Regions from separate parts of the Homo sapiens genome. Here region 1 is linked to region 2. The links come from fine-mapping of genetic effects on gene expression. Tissue or cell type: whole blood. Region 2 holds a variant in brackets; the other region holds the start of a gene. All regions are shown on one strand. Distances are between the middles of the regions.

Evidence for each region.
Region 1: MSH6 starts here. The variant in region 2 is fine-mapped to the expression of MSH6 in whole blood (INTERVAL, PIP 0.90).

The regions. Positions count from the first base shown.
Region 1 is chr2:47,778,809-47,787,143 of GRCh38, reverse strand. It overlaps MSH6 (mutS homolog 6), which reads right to left and starts at 3,999. Exons shown (of 10, transcript NM_000179.3): 1 at 3,651-3,999. The coding sequence starts at 3,910. RefSeq lists silencers at 3,217-3,306, 3,507-3,666, 3,947-4,426, 5,577-5,758 and an enhancer at 4,557-4,626.
Region 2 is chr2:47,841,724-47,850,059 of GRCh38, reverse strand. All of the region lies in intron 1 of FBXO11 (F-box protein 11), which reads left to right. Among named protein-coding and RNA genes, the nearest start is that of FBXO11, 61 kb to the left of the region's middle. The variant G/A (reference allele first, on the strand shown) is at 4,082.

The sequences.
Region 1 (8,335 bases), 63 kb after region 2:
CTAATTTTCTTATTTTTTGGAGAGACAGGGTCTAGCCATGTTGGCCTGCCTTGGCCTCCCAAAGTGTTGGGTTTACAGGCATGAGCCACTGCACCCAGCCTCCCTGTGGATTTCTTAAATAAAACCTATAGAAACACTAACCACAGAGAAAATAAAAGGACAAATTCCACATTATAATCAATAATTTGTTCATCGAAAGATGCCATAAGGCTGGGTGTGGTGGCTCACACTTGTAATCCCAACAGGTTGGGAGGCTGAAGTGGGAGGATCGCTTGAGAGCAAGAGTTCAACACCAGCCTGGGCAACAAAGTGAGACCTCTATTATTCAACAACAACAACAAAGCCATAAACTAAATGAAAGAACTCATTGTGAAAGAAGACATTTATATCACACACAAATGACAAAGAACTAGGAAAAAAAAAAGAAACAGCAAAAGACAAACACTTCAGCACAAGAAGAAATCTAAATGACAAACATTAAAAGATGCTCGGACAGACACGGTGGCTCACGGCCAGGTGCGGTGGTTCACGCCTGTAATCCCAACACTTTGGGAGGCTGAGGTGGGTGGATCACCTGAGGTCAGGAGTTCACGACTGGCCTGACCAACATGGTGAAACCCGTCTCTACTATAAACACAAAAATTAGCTGGGCGTGGTGGCAGGCACCTGTAATACCAGGTACTTGAGAGGATGAGGCAGGAGAATCGCTGGAACCCAGGAGGCGGAGGTTGCAGTGAGCTGAGACCACACCACTGCACTCCAGCTTGGGCAACAAGAGTGAAATTCCGTCTCAAAAAAAAAAAAAATACGCTCAACATGTTTTAAGGCTTAAATGATTCATGGAGTAAGTCCGAATGTCTCTGTAGCTCATCAGACTGTTCATGATTGGATCTCTGCTTAACTTCTCCAATGCTCCCTCCTCCTCCTTTCATCCTACCCACAATTTGCAGACCTTCCTCTTCCTGAACCAGCTTCCCACTCTCACTATAATCTGTCTAAGCTTATTTGTCCTTCTGGTTTCGGTTTACAGAGCTGAGAGCCTAGCCTGACCCGCATCCTCTCCGTCCCCTTTCCACTTGGAGTCTACAATTGCCTCTTTGCTTTGTCCTGTTCATGGTTGTATCCAGGATCCATAATGCCTAATGCTGTGCTCGGCAGAGTGATCTAGACACTGCAGTTTCTTTAGAAACCTAGTATCAAATGCCCATCTTTCTTGAATACCCTGGAATCCTCTCCATAACGGGAGGTGAAATGTATACGTTTTATTTTTACAAGTCTCTTAAACTCAACCTCAAGAAACAAATAACATACGCTATTCAATATGAATGTAAAGTACATCCTTACAATAAATACACCCGTTTGGTTTGGATTCAACAATCAATTCATGCTCAAGTAAACAATACGTCATGCTTTTCTAACCAGGAGTTTGTTATTGCGGATGCTGGCTCTGTTCCCCACAAGCATATTCTACTAATGCACAACTATATATATTTAAACTGCGGGAAAGGGTCGCTTAAACAAGGGTAACACTATAATTACACTTAGAAAAATCTCAGAATTCCTTTAGGACACTTTAAACTGGATTTAAATGGATTTGAAATCCATTACTCAAAACCACTAACTAGCGGCCGGGCACGGTGGCTCACACCTGTAATCCCAGCACTTTGGGAGGCTGAAGTGGGTGGACCACTTGAGGTCAGCAGTTTCAAGACCAGCCTGGCCAACATGGTGAAACTCCATGGTGAAAAATCAGCCGGACCGCGGTGGGCACACCCGTAATCCCAGCTACTCGGGAAGCTGAGGCAGGAGAATCACTTGAACCCGGCGGGCAGAGGTTGCAGTGAGCCGAGAAAGCGCCACAGCACTCCAGCCTGGGCGACAGAGCGAGACTCCATTTCAAAACAAAACCAAACAAAAAACACGAACTGGCTCTTATCTTGAATGAGTTATTTTTTCTGAGCCTTTATTTCTTCGTTTGTTCAAATAGCGACCATTAAACTTTGTGTTTAGTATCTGACAAACGGCCGGGCTCGGTGGTTCATGCCTGTAATCCCAGCACTTTGGTAGGCCAATGCGGGCCGATCAAGAGGTCAGGAGTTCGATACCAGCCTGGCCAACATAGTGAAACCCGTCTCTACTAAAAATACAAAAATTAGCCAGGCGTGGTGGGGCGCACCTGTAGTCCCAGCTACTTGGGAGGCTGAGGCAGGATAATCTCTTGATCCAGAGACAGAGGTTGTGGTGAGCCAAGAACGCGCCACTGCACTCTAGCCTGGACAAAAGAGCAAGACTCTGTCTCAAAATACATATATATGTATCTGGCAAACAGCAAAAGCAAGCTTTTCAAAATGTCGCCAGCTGCCCGGATAAAAAGCCCTAAACAGACCGGGCGCGGTGGCTAGCGCCTGTAATCCCAGCACTTTGAGGCCGAGGCGGGTGGATCACCTGAGGTCGGGAATTCCGAGACTAGCCTGACCAACATGGAGAAACCCCGTCTCTACTAAAAATACAAAATTGGCGGGGTGTGGGGGCGCATTCCTGTAATCCCGACTACTCGGGAGGCTGAAGCTGGGGAATCGCTTGAAGCCGGGACGCGGAGATTGCGGTGAGCTGAGATCGCGCCATTGCACTCCAGCCTGGACTTGAGCGAAACTCTCTCTCAAAAAGGAAAAAAAAAAAAAAGCACTTAACTGCCCATAAAGTGAGGACAACTCCCGACAGGCTTCCCCGGAGTCACTCACGTCCACACATCTTTGTCCAGCGCCCGATTAAGGCCTCTAAAAGCCCAGTGGTGCCCCATAAAAATTACACTATTTCATAAAATAAAATATTTTCCACTCGACACGAATTTCCACATACGTCAAAATATTCTATCTTCGTCTCGGTGCACGTGCAGCCTACCTACCGAAGGACCCAGCCGGATCCCAGCACTTCGGCTCCCCACGGCCCCGCCCCGCCCAATTAGGCCCCGCGGTCCCCATGGTGACACACCCCCCCGCGCTCGCAGCTCGTGGCCCACCCCCTCGGCGGCCCCTCACCTAGGCCGAAGGCCCACCGTCCCCAAGGCGTCTCGGCGACCGCGGCTCTTAACTACCTCTAAGTGTCTACCTCGATCGACTACTGGAGCCCCAACTCACTATCTCCGCGCCGGCCGAGGAACCTCCTTTCGCACCCCACACCACCGGACTCTCCCCGTTCGGCCTCCCGCAGGCATTCCTCCTTCCCGCCACCCCGCCCCCCGCCCCGCCCACCAAGTGGGCCGGGCGCCTTCCCCTTCTCGCCCCACCCCCAGTGCTCCCACCTCCCAGGCCCCCTCCCCACCCGGAGCTGCGCGCGTCGCCCCTTCCTTAGCCCAGCACCCCCACCTGGCGGGACGCGTCTCCTCCCTCCAAAAGGCCCGAACTCTCCGCGTCTCCCCTGCAGCCCTCTTCCTGCACAGCCTCTCTCCTCCGACCCTGTTTACAAGCTACACCCCCAAATGCTCCAGACTCGACCCCTGCACTCATTCAAGCCAACTCTGCGGCCCCGCCTCCTCCGAGCCCAGGGCCAGGCCGTGCACCCCCCCAACCCCCTGTGCGAGCCTCCCCTCGCCGGGTTCCAAGCGCCCCGCCGCTATGCCCCCGCCTTCGACCCCACCCCCACCCCGCTACCTGGTGGGGGCAGCAGGCGCTACCGATCTCCGCAGCCCTCCGTTGAGGTTCTTCGCCTTGGGCGGTGACGCGGAGCGCGCCAAGGGCCTGGGCCCAGGCCCAGCCTCGCTCCAGGCCGCATCCCCGCCTGGGGAAGGAGAGGCCCCGGGGGCAGCGGCGGCACGGCCGCCTTCGCGTGAGGCCCTGGCCGAGGCCTTGTTGGCATCACTCAGCGCCGGAGACTTGGGGAAGAAGCTGTACAGGGTGCTCTGTCGCGACATACCGACAGCCGGCAAGGCCCAACCGTTCTGTCGGACGGAGCTCCTAAAAGCACCGCATCTACCGCGCGGCTCCTGCTGGCGGGAAATCTGGGGGGAGGCGCGCTCCGCCGGAGGAACCCGGGCCCCAGTGGCCAATCAACAGGCGCCTCGCCGTGCGCGGGCGGTGCGCGCCAGGCCCCGCCCCCGGGCGCGCGGCGACGTGGGGAAGGGCGGGGCTGGCACACTGGTGGGTAGGGGCGGGGCTGGCACGCTGGCGGTGAGGGGCCCGCCCTGCCGCCGACGCCTGGGCCCCGCGCGGGGAACTGCTGAGCTCCCCTTCCCTCACGCCGCGGGGCTGGCCGGGCCGGAACACTCCGACCCGGGGTTAGTTGCGGCCGCGGGGCTAGCAGGCTCGGAAAGCCCTGCCTCTCTGGAGCGGAAGCGGGAACAGCGGGGGCGCGCACCGCCCGGGCGGGGATAACCGGGGGGACCCGAAAGGCCTCGGAAAGGGGCTCGCGGGGAGAAACGCGTCCAGCGCTCGCGTGACCTCCTGCCGTTAGAGCATTTTCGCAAGGAGACGGAGCGAAAGGGACCAAACTTTAGTCAGCAGTTCACCTTCACGTTGTATTCTCAAGATTTGTATAGAGTAGGCACTTGGTAAACGCTAAATGAATATTGTAATAGCATTCGTTAGCGATGCTGTTGTGTATGGTGAAAGCCTGCAGCTGTACAAAGTTTTCCTTTGCCAGGCACTGATCCCAGCATTTTACATCTGGTAACTAAATCGATCCTCTCAATAACCTGTGACGTAAGTACTTAAGGGCCACAGTCCGTTATCTGAGCCCTTTGACCCAGGTGTGTCTTTACAGGATTTTTCAAATTTTAGAAAGCTAAGAGACTATGAGAGGCCGGGCGCAGTGGCTCACGCCTGTAATCCCAGCACTTTGGGATGCCGAGGCGGGCGGATCACCTGAGGTCAGGCGTTGAAGACCAGCCTAGTCAACATGGTGAAACCCCCGTCTCTACTAAAAATCCAAAAATTAGCCGGGCGTGGTGGCATGCGCCTGTAATCCCAGCTACTTGGGAGGCTGAGGCAGGAGAATAACTTGAACCTGGGAGGCAGCGTTTGCAGTGAGCCAAGGTCGCGCCACTGCACTCCAGCCTGGGCGACAAGAGCGAAACTCCGTCTCAAAAAAAAAAGAAAGAAAGCTAAGAGGCTATGAGAATAAAAAGGTTCTATTCAAATTCAAGAAAGATAGTGGAAGACAGACAATTGTTTGTCCCCTTATCCAGATTGTGAAATCCAGATTGCCGGAAACCAGTCACAATCAACAGCTGTACATTGGTAAAAACCTATGTAAAATTAGTTGTTTGCCTTGTTCTTGGAGACTGTTCTGCCAGAAGGTTCTCCTTTGCTAGGCAAGTAATAAAATCAATCTAAAAAAAAAAGGCGGGGGCCGGGCGCAGTGGCTCACGCCTGTAGTCCCAGCACTCGGCACTTCGGGGGGGGGGCGGAGGTGGGCGGATCACGAGGTCAGGAGATCGAGACCATCCTGGCTAACACAGTGAAACCCCGCCTCTACTAAAAATACAAAAAATTAGCCTGGCGTGGTAGCACACGCCTGTAGTCCCAGCTACTGGGGAGGCTGAGGTAGGAGAATGGTGTGAACCCGGGAGGCGGAGCTTGCAGTGAGCCGAGATCGCGCCTCTGCACTCCAGCCTGGGCGACAGAGCAAGACTCCCTCTCAAAAAAAAAAAAAGAATATTGCCAAAGGTGGTATGTGCTAAGAAAAATACAGTATGCTTCACGAATTTGCATTTCATCCCTGTGCAGGGGTCATTCCAATTTTGGTATATGTGCTACCCAAGCAAGCACAGTGAAACCAACTGTTTGAGATAATATTTGAGAGTTGGTCTCTTTCCCCCACCGGCATACGTAAACACCCCCAGAGAGTCTGGGGGAACATGCTGAAATCAAACATGCAGTAAAACTTACATGCTTATTCATACTAAGTAGAAAGAATACAGAATATAGACTATAAATAGCCTCAGGTCAAAATTTGCTACCAAATGAGTTTACCCCCAAACTTTTGGTTTACAGAGCTTTTTGGATTTCAGAATTGCACGTAAGAGGCTGGTTATCCTGTATCTCCATATCATGGATGAAGCTGAGGCACAGTTGGGTCAAGTAACTTGCCCATGACTGCATAGCTAGGAAGTGGTGGAGCCTGGATTTAAACTCAAGGAAGCTGGTTCTGGAGCCCTATGTTGTTAACAGAAATACTATAATACTTCCAATTTAACACCATTTTATCTCATTTAGTTATTACAACCACCTTATACTAGGTTGAACTATGTGAAATTGCCAAAATTTGCCCTTTTTAAAATTTTTTTGAGACAGGGTCTGGCTCTGTCACAGAGGCTGGAGTATAGTGGCGTGATCTTGGCTTACTGTAGCCTCAACCTCCCAGGCTTAAGTAATCCTCTCACCTCAGCCTCCTGAGTACCTGGGACCACAGGCCCGCAACACCATGCCCAGCTAATTTTTTTTTTTTTTAATTGAGGAGTCTTATTCTGTCACCCAGGCTGGAGTACAGTGACGCCATCTTGGTTCACTGCAACCCCTGCTTTGCGGGTTCAGGCAATTCTCATGCCTCAGCCTCCTGAGTGCTAGGATTACTGGTGCCTACCACCATGCCCAGCTAATTTTTGTTTTTTAGTAGAGACACGGTTTCACCATGTTGGCCTGCCTGATCCCAAACTCCTGACCACAAGTGACCCGCCTGCCTCAGCCTCCCAAAGTGCTGGGATTACAGGTATGAGCCACTGTGCCCGGTGCCCTGCTAGTATTTTAAAAATTTTCTGTAGAGACGAAGTTTCACTATGTTGCCCAAGCTGGACCTTTTTGGTTTTTTGGTTGTTTTGTTTTGAGACAGGGTCTTACTCTGTCTCCCAGACTGGTGTGCAGTAGTGCAGTCTCAGCTCACCACAACTTTCACCTCCCAAGCTCAAGCAATTCTCCTTCCTCAGCCTCCTGAATAGCTGGGATTACCGGCACGCGCTACTACTGCCCAGCTAATTTTTGTATTTTTAGTAGAGACAGGATTTCACCATGTTGGCCAGGCTGGTCTCAAACTCCTGACCTCAAATGATCCTCCTGCCTCGGCCTCCCAAAATGTTGGGATTACAGGCGGGAGCCACTGCGCCCAGCCAAGCTGGACCGTTTTTGAAGTACAAATATTAATATTTAATTCATTTTGGTTCAACTGAATATAACGTTATTCTCTTTTTGTTGTTGTTGTTTGTTTTTTTGGGGATGGAGTCTTGCTCTGTCACCGAGGCTGGAGTGCAATGGCACGATCTTGGCTCACCACAACCTCCGCCTCCCAGGTTAAGGCAATTCTCCTGCCTCAGTCTCCTGAGTAGCTGGGGTTACAGGCACCAACACACCCAGCTAAGTTTTGTATTTTTAGTAGAGATGGGGTTTCACCATGTTGGCCAGGCTGGTCTCAAACTCCTGACCTCGTGATCCGCCCATCTCTGCCTCCCAAAGTGCTGGGATTATAGATGTGAGCCACTGCGCCCGGCCGATGTTATTCTTTTACAGGGAGGAAATGGAGGTTCAGAGGGGATGCGCCAGTTGTAAGAGGTTAAGAGCCTGGGCTTTGGGTTAAATGGAGAACTGAGCTCTGATCCTAGCTAGCCAAGCAGATAACTCGGAGCAATTAATACTTTTCTGAACTTGTTTCCTCGTCTTTGATAAGGACAGTAGTACCTATGGGCCAAATTTTGGAGGCTACAGTTAGATGCCTCCCACAAACTTCATTAAAAGACAAGAGAACACATGTATTATGTGGGGACACTCAGACCCCCAGAATTGGCATGAATGTTACTTGGAACTGAAGACATTTGAGAGCCAACAGATGCAGAAAGATGCCGTTTCAAAGCTTCCCTTATGCGACTAACAGCAGAAATTTCTGGGAGTGAAGCTGCCGTAAATCTCCTCTCTAGGGGAGTTTTAGTGGCCAGAAAAAAAGACAAAGACCACTTGCACCTGCAAAAACAAACATTCTTATCTCCCTTTTGTTCCCCCAGAAACCTATTTGTTCTTCCCATGGAAGGCTTTTTCTCCCTCCTCTTCCCCTATTAAATGGTATATATAAAGTAGATTTCGAGATTCAAGAAAAAAAAAGTTGTATAAATGCCAAATAACAGCCTCCTGGACTCACTTTTTTTTTCTGTGAACTCCTGCATGCATATCTGAATAAAAGTCTGTCTTTTTTTTTTTTTTTTTCTGAGACAGGGTCTCACTCTGTTGCCCAGGCTGATCCTCCAGCCTCAGCCTCCCAAGCAGCTAAGACTGCAGGTGTGCGTCCTCACACCCTGATAATTTTATTTTCTGTAGAGACTGGGTCTTGCTATGTTGCCCAGGCCGGTCTCCAACTC
Region 2 (8,336 bases):
GTGCTGTAGCTCCCTTACTCGTCTCCTGCCACCAGTGCTATTCATTTCCAGTTGTTTTTGCATTGTTTGGGTGATCTTCCTAAAACCAAAATCAGAACACATTACTGTTCTTTTTAATACCCTTCAGTGACCATATTTTGTTTTTAAGATAAGGTCTAAATTATTTTAAGTGTTTGTAATAGCCTTTATAATTTGGCCTCTGCTACATAGTATAGCCATACATATGGAGCAGCTGGCAGTTCCTTGATACCTGTGCTGGAGATGAGCACCTTCAGGTCTTCACACACACTATTCCTTCTGCATAACTGACTCTCAGTTGTCATCCATTTCTTAGCTTGGACTTTCTTCAGAAAATCTTACACCAATACCCACATCATCTAAGATTGGATTAGATGTTCTTAAATATTCCCTCAATACTTTCTGCTTAACCTTATCAGCATGTGACACACTGCATTATTACTGCCTGTTTAGTTGTCTGTCTCTTAGGCTCTTGAAGAGCAAATACAATATTCTGTTTGATTGACCTGTGTCACCAATACCTAGCACAGTCCATGGCAAGATTTGGCTTTTGAAGATTGTTACTAAGTAACGAAAATGCACATTTTTTAAGTCATTTTAAGTATAATGATCCTGTGGTGGCAAAAATTCAGTGTAAGAACGTATGTGTGTTAATAACTGAATACATTAATGGAAGTATTATGTAACAGTATCCTAAATAAATAATTTTAAAATGTAACTATAAAATCAGAAACATTTGCTTACAGCAAGTCAAGCTTTTAAAAAGTTTTTTTAATTATAACTTTACTTTTGGGATCTCTATTATAAAATATTTAAATTTTAAGTAAACCATGTAACTTTATAAGTATTTAAATTTTATCTTGATTTCCATTTGTGAATTTTTTTAGCAGTTAGAGAAAAGCTGTGGTAGTTTCCAACTGTGTTAGAAACAGTTGTCAAGTGTGGTTCCTTTACGCCATGAGACTGGGAGCTGTTTCTAAACACAAAGTTGTTAGTCGCACAGATTTGCCTAAGTTTCCAATCTGATCTGTGACTATGGGTAAGTAAATTGGAATTTGTGTATTTGTGGGGAAAAAAACTTCTGTCAATTAAATTCCATAAACTACTCTTAACTTTATAACCTAAAATGTGTAGACTTTAAACCCCAGCCAATCAATAGTATAATTTTTTGCAAACTTTCAAGGTAAAGGGTATATAAAAAGGTATTCTGCTAGGCTCAGAATAAATAGAGTCAAGACAGTTAGGAATCTTATTTGAATCCTAAAATAAATTTTCAGTGCTACATTTATTATCAAAGATGTCAGAGATTATTTTTTAATTAAAGAAACATGTTTATTTTCCAGAAGACTTTACTTATTTCTGTGGTTCCTATTAATAGTGAAGATTGTAGTGTATTTATAGCATAGGATTTGTAGTAAAATCTAGAAATTATAAAATAAATTTTGATATTATATATGTGTGTGCAAATAGCATACTTTTAAATTGCGTATTAACTTTTTATCCTTTAAGACAGTGGTCCCCAACCTTTTTTGGCACCAATGACTGGTTTTATGGAAGACAGTTTTTCCACGGACTCAGAGGGGTGGGTGGTTTCAGGATGAAACTGTTCACCTCAGATCATCAGACATGCACCACATAATTAGATTCTCATAAGAAGTGCACAACCTAGATCCCTCGCATGTGCAGTTCACAATAGGGTTCACACTCCTATGAGAATCTAATGCTGTGGCTGATCTGACAGGAGGCGGAGCTCAGGCAGTATTGCTTGGTCGCCTACCACTCACCTCCTGGGTGGCCCAGTTCCTAACTGGCCCCGGGGTTGGGGATCTCTGCTTTAAGAGAACTGATAAAGGTTTAGTGAAAGATATATATGTGTGTGTGTGTTTGGTTGTTTTTTTGTTTGTTTGTTTGTTTTTTTGAGATGGGGTCTCGCTCTGTCGCCCAGGCTGGAGTGCAGTGGTGCGATCTCAGCTCACTGCAAGCTCCACCTCCCGGGTTCACAGCATTCTCCTGCCTCAGCCTCCCGAGTAGCTGGGACTACAAGCACCCGTCACCACGCCCGGCTAATTTTTTGTATTTTTAGTAGAGATGGGGTTTCACCGTGTTAGCCAGGATGGTCTCAATCTCCTGACCTCATGATCCACCCGCCTCAGCCTCCCAAAGTGCTGGGATTACAGGCATGAGCACTGTGCCTGGCCATATGTGTGTGTTTTTATATACACACACAGTCTGTCTAACACAGTCACGCACCACATAACAATGTTTTCATCAACAACAGACTGTATATGATGGTGGTCCCAAAAAATTATGATACCATATTTTGTTTATTTGTTCGTTTGAGACAGAGTCTCGCTCTGTCACCCAGGCTGGAGTGCAGTGGGTGTGATCTTGGCTTACTGCAACCTCCTGGGTTCAAGCGGTTCTCCTGCCTTAGCCTCCTGAGTAGCTGGGACTACAGGCGTATGCCACCATGCCTTGCTAATTTTTGTATTTTTGGTAGAGACAGAGTTTCACCATGTTGACCAGGCTGGTCCCAAACTCCAGACCTCAAATGATCCTCCCGTCTTGGCCTCCCAAAGTGCTGGGATTACAGGCGTGAGCCACCACACCCAGCCATGATACTATATTTTTACTGTACCTTTTTACTTTCTTTAGATAGGCAGTTATTTACCATTGTGTTACAATTGTCTACAGTGTTCAGTACAGTACAGTAACATGCTGCACAGGCTTACAGCCTAGGAACAGTAGGCTATACCATTATAGCCTAAGTGCTTAATTTCTTTTTGTTTGTTTGTTTGAGACAGAGTCTCACTCTGTCACTCAGGCTGGAGTGCAGTTGCACAATGTCGGCTCACTGCAGTCTACACCTTTCAGGTTCAAGCAATTCTCCTGGCTCAGCCTCCTGAGTAGCTGGGATTACAGGTGTCCACCACCACACCTGGCTGATTTCTTTTATTTTTAGTAGAGATAGGGTTTCACCATGTTGGCCAGGCTGGTCTTGAACTCCTGGCCTCAGATGAAGTGCCTCCTTGGCCTCCTAAAGTGCAGGGATTACAGATGTGAGCCACCACGACCAGCCTTCTCAGAACGTATTCTTGTCTTTAAGTGATAAGTGACTGTATGTGTCTGCATTGTCCAATTAAGGGTAGCCACTAGCTGCATGTGGCTTTTGAGCACTTGAAATATGCCTAGTCTGAATAGAGGCATGCTGTGTTACACATACGTACTATTTTCAAAGATTTAGTATGAAAAAAATGTAAATTATCTCAGTAATAATTTTATATTTACATATTGAAATGATATATTTCAGATTTAATATGTTAAGTATATTAAAATTTCACTGTTTTATTTTTTAATGCAGCTAAATTACATATGTGGATTGCGTTCTATTTCTGGTGGACATTTCTGGTCTAGAACATTTTTTCTAACTAAATTTTTCTGTGAATTATAGTTAAAATTGAACATTTTTGGTAGAGGGTTATTTTTAAGTCTTTGATTACAACTTGACAATCATTGGCATAATATTCTATTAGATATAAAAATGAAAACCATAAAATTAAAAAAAAATTTTTTTTTGAAACAGTTTCGTTTTTGTTGCCCAGGCTGGAGTGCAATGGCATGATCTCCGCTCATCGCAGCCGCCTTCTTCCAGGTTCAAGCAATTCTCCTGCCTCATCCTCCTGAGTAGCTGGGATTACAGGCATGCGCCACCAAACCTGGCTAATTTTGTATTTTTAGTAGAGACGGAGTTTCTCCATGTTGGCCAGGCTGGTCTAGAACTCCCAACCTCAGATGATCTGCCCGCCTGGGCCTCCTAAAGTGCTGGGATTTACAGGCATGAGCCACCACGCCTGGCCAAAATTATTTTAAGGTCTTGCTTTTAGACTTGTTGGCACAAAACCATAACTAATCCATGATTTCGTGTTTCTTGGGTTGGAGCCAGTTTGCCGCATCTATCATGGATCGTTGGCTTTATTCATTTTTATTTAATGTAACAAATATTTTTTGTTTCATGTATGCTAAGTCTGTTTTGGGGGAATACTTCTCCATAATTTCAGGAGGG[G/A]ACAAAAAATAATGGATCTACATGTAAATGCATTTGTGGATTTGGATGTTGGAAGGAAGTTAAGGCAGTTCTTGTTTGGTTTTTTTTTTTCCTGTAAAGTAGGAGATAAGCCACCACTAGTGATGGCTTCTACGAAGAACTCCCTGAATTGAGTAAAATTAAAGGGTTCTCCATTGATGGGAATCAGTATTTATTGAGTACTGATTGGGCACCAAGCTAAACACTGAAGAATATAAAAGAGGGCACCCTTGTTACCCTGCCTCGCCCTCAGAGCTTATAATTTTGTTAGGGAAATATGGCATATAATAAAAAAAGTAAGTATAACATAAGGCAGCTAAGGTATAGTAAGGTATATACGGTATATATTCAGTACTACAGGAGTTCAAAAGATGAAGCGAACCCAAATGACTAGAGATTTCTTTTAAGCTTTCTGTTTTGCTGCTTATCACAGTAGTAGCCAACTTATCTTCCCAGAATGATCCCTTTTTAAGTAACTTCTGGCACTGTACTTGATTCTCAGAACAGTCAGTAGTAATTTAATATGAGAACTATGTAGAAATTAGCACATATTCTTCAGCGCAGAGTTCAAAACAGTGATTTTATAACTCATGAGCACTTCAGGACAGTGTTTACAAGTGGGAAGTTGAGATTTCTGTGGTATTCATGACTTAAATCATGTAGCTTCTTGAATTTATTTGCTGTACATTTTAGGATGCAAATGAATTAATTAGCACCTTCTCTTTCCTGTTAGGACCTCTGAATTCCTTACTTTTCAGTCTTTACTATTTGCTGTGTCTTTGGTGAGAAGCAAAGGATTCCAGGGTGGGGTGGGTGGGTGTCTGTAGTAATAAGGTCCACAGATTTTAAGAAGGTGAAGGTGAGGAAAGGAGGAGGGAGTTGTATAGGATGAAAAGTTTGAGAATGTACTTTTGAGTGTTGTAGAATTGGACTGACTACTGAAGGAAATGGCAAACAAGCTGATAGAGACATTAACCCACATGCATGCATACTACAAACATATCAAAATGAAATATGTAATAAGGGCTGGGCACAGTGGCTCATGCCTGTAATCCCAGCACTTTGGGAGGCCAAGTTAGGCGGATCACTTGAGCTCAGGAGTTTGAGACCCATCCTTGGCAACATGGCAAAACCATGTCTCTACAGAAATACAAAAATTAGCCAGGCATGGTGGCGTGCACACCTGTAAACTGAGGTGGGAGAATTGCTTGAGCCAGGGAAACGGAGGTTGCAGTGAGTCGAGATCCCACCACTGCACTCCAGCCGGGTGACAGAGTGAGACCCTGTCTCAAAAACAAAACGAACAAAAGAAATACGCATTAAGAACAAAACTATAAACATATAACTAAACTTTTAAGGAAGGAAAGAAGAGGAGGAAAATTCATAGGTATCAGAAATCAGAGAAATAAAATCAGAACAGTAAGCGGGAGCTAGTGTTGCTGTATATAGCACAGGGGGCTTTTGGTCCTGCATATGTTCTAAGGGGTCTGGGGTTGAATTTTATTGCACATATGGGGATAGGATATATGGCCTTGGGCCTTTTCAAAATATATCTGAAACAAAGACCCAGGCATGTGGCCTAGAGCCTGAAATAACTTCCCTAATTACGCATAGAGATTAGAAAAAGTGCCCACTAGTCAAATGCTCACTCAAGAACAAAGTCAATGACAGAACAATCTAAGAGAGAATATAAAATGTGAGTGAAATGATTGAAGGGATAAAAGAAGGAAATGAAGCAATGAGGTAATAGATCAGTGTGAAAAAGAAACAGTAAAACTTGGAAAAAATTAACTTTTAGAAATTAAAAATATAATCATGGAAATTGGCAGTAGATGGGTTAAATTACAGATTAGACAGATACTCTTGCCTTGGCTGAAAAGCAAAAGTCTAGCAATAAATGGTTAAGAATAAGCAAATCTAGGCCAGGCACAGTGGCTCATGCCTGTAATCCCAGCACTTTGGGAGGCTGAGGCAGGCAGATACCTTGAGGTCAGGAGTTCGAGACCATCCTGGCCAACATAGTGAAACCCCGTCTCTATTAAAAATACAAAAATTAGCCGGGCGTAGTGGCGCGTGCCTGTAATCCCAGCTACTCGGAAGGCTGAGGTGGGAGAATAGCTTGAACCCAGGAGGCAGAGGTTGCAGTGAGCCGAGATCACGCCATTGCACTCCAACCTGGGCAACAGAGCAAGACTCATCTCAAAAAAGAAGAAGAAGAAGAAGAAGCAGCAGCAAATCTAAAATGTAATCCATAAAAGTAAGAAATTGAAAATAAAGGATTTAAAAAATACTAGACTGACACAAACCAAAACAGAAAGCTGATAGACCAAAAATAGATTTGTAAGGCAGAAAGCATTGTTAGTGATGAAGAAAGCCATTACATAATGAAGATGATGAAGAAAGCCATTAATTACATAATGAAGAATGGAATAATTCACCAGGAAGAAATAGTTATCTTGAATCTGTGTGTCCAAATAATATTGTCTCAAAGCACATAAAGCAAAAATTTGCAGGCAAAAAAAAAAAAAAGATTAACTACAAATATGGTGGGAGATTTCAGCACATTTCCTTCAGAAGCCAATGAATAAACCACCACCACCCTCAACAAAAGTGAAAAAATGTAAGCATAGAGACTATTTGAACAACACAATTAACAAGCTAGATCTTTTTAGACATGTTTAAACCCTACTCTAAAAATTAGTGTTGATGTTCCTTTCAAGCACACATAGGACGTTTACTGGTCATATTATTAATATACAAACATTTATAGAATTACACATATTAGACCTCAAAGGGAGAGAGTTCCACAAATGCCTAGGCGTATCATACTGGCTGCTTTTTGTGATTCCTGCAGTACATGGAAAATTTACAAGCTGGGCACATTGACTCACAGCTATAATAATCTCATCACTTTGGGAGGCCATGGCAGGAGGATCACTTGAGCTCAGCAGTTTTGAGACTAGCCTGCACAACATGGTGAGACCTTGTGTCTACAAAAAAAAGTTGTTTTTAATTAGCCAGGTGTGGTGGTTCACATCTGCAGTTCCAGCTGTTCGAGAGGCCAAGGTGGGAGGGCTGCTTGAGCCCAGGAGATACAGGCTGCAGTAAGCCATGATTGTGCCACTGTATTCCAGCCTGGGTGACAAAGTGAGACCCTGTATCTTTTTTTTTTTTTTTTTTTAAAGAAAAATTTACTTGTTTTTCCAAGTTTCATTTGAAAGTGATGTTAATCGAATAATATTTAAATGAAATAATAGTAATTGAAATACTTCTTGAACTCTGCATATGAGCCCAGGCATACTGTGTGTTTTACATATATTTAAGTTTTTAGCAGCTTTCAATTATAACATACTCTTATCTTTAATAGATGAGAAAATGTAGGCTTAAAAATGTTAATTTACACCCAAGGTTAGCTGACTGGAAATCTCTACTTTTAAATATTACACTTTTACAAACTCTCCCCCCTTTTTATACCTTTGTTATTATGAAATATAGCTAGGTAGAGAAACCTACATAAAACACAAATACACAGCTTGTTGAGTTATTATTAAGGTATTATCTTTGTAATACCAACAAGGCAAGAACTAGAACTTTGCCAGCTACTACTAAGCCTTTTATGTTTCCCATTCTAATTATATTCTCCTCCTGCCGGGCGCCGGTGGCTCACGCCTGTAATCCCAGCACTTTGGGAGGCCGAGGCGGGCAGATCACGAGGTCAAGAGATGAAGACCATCCTGGCCAACATTGTGAAACCCCGTCTCTATCAAAAATACAAAAATTAGCTGGCCATAGTGGCGTGCACCTGTAGTCCCAGCTACTCGGGAGGCTGAGGCCGGAGAATGGCTTGAACCCAGGAGACGGAGGTTGCAGTGAGCCGAGATCGCGCAACTGCACTCCAGCCTGGGCAACAGGGCGAGACTCTGTCTCAAAAAAAAAAAATAAAAATAAAACTGATATTCTCCTCCTTCCCCACTAAAAGCATTTGTATTATAATCATTTTCTAGCTTTTTAAAAAATAATTTGGCCGGGCACAGTGGCTCACGCCTGTAATCCCAGCCCTTTGGGAGGCCGAGGTGGGGGGATCACGAGGTCAGGAGTTAGAGACCATCCTGGCCAACATGGTGAAACCCCGTCTCTACCAAAATACAAAAAGTTAGCCAGGCATGGTGGTGTGTGCCTGTAGTCCCAGCTACTCAGGAGGCTGAGACAGGGGAATGGCGTGAACCCAGGAGGTGGA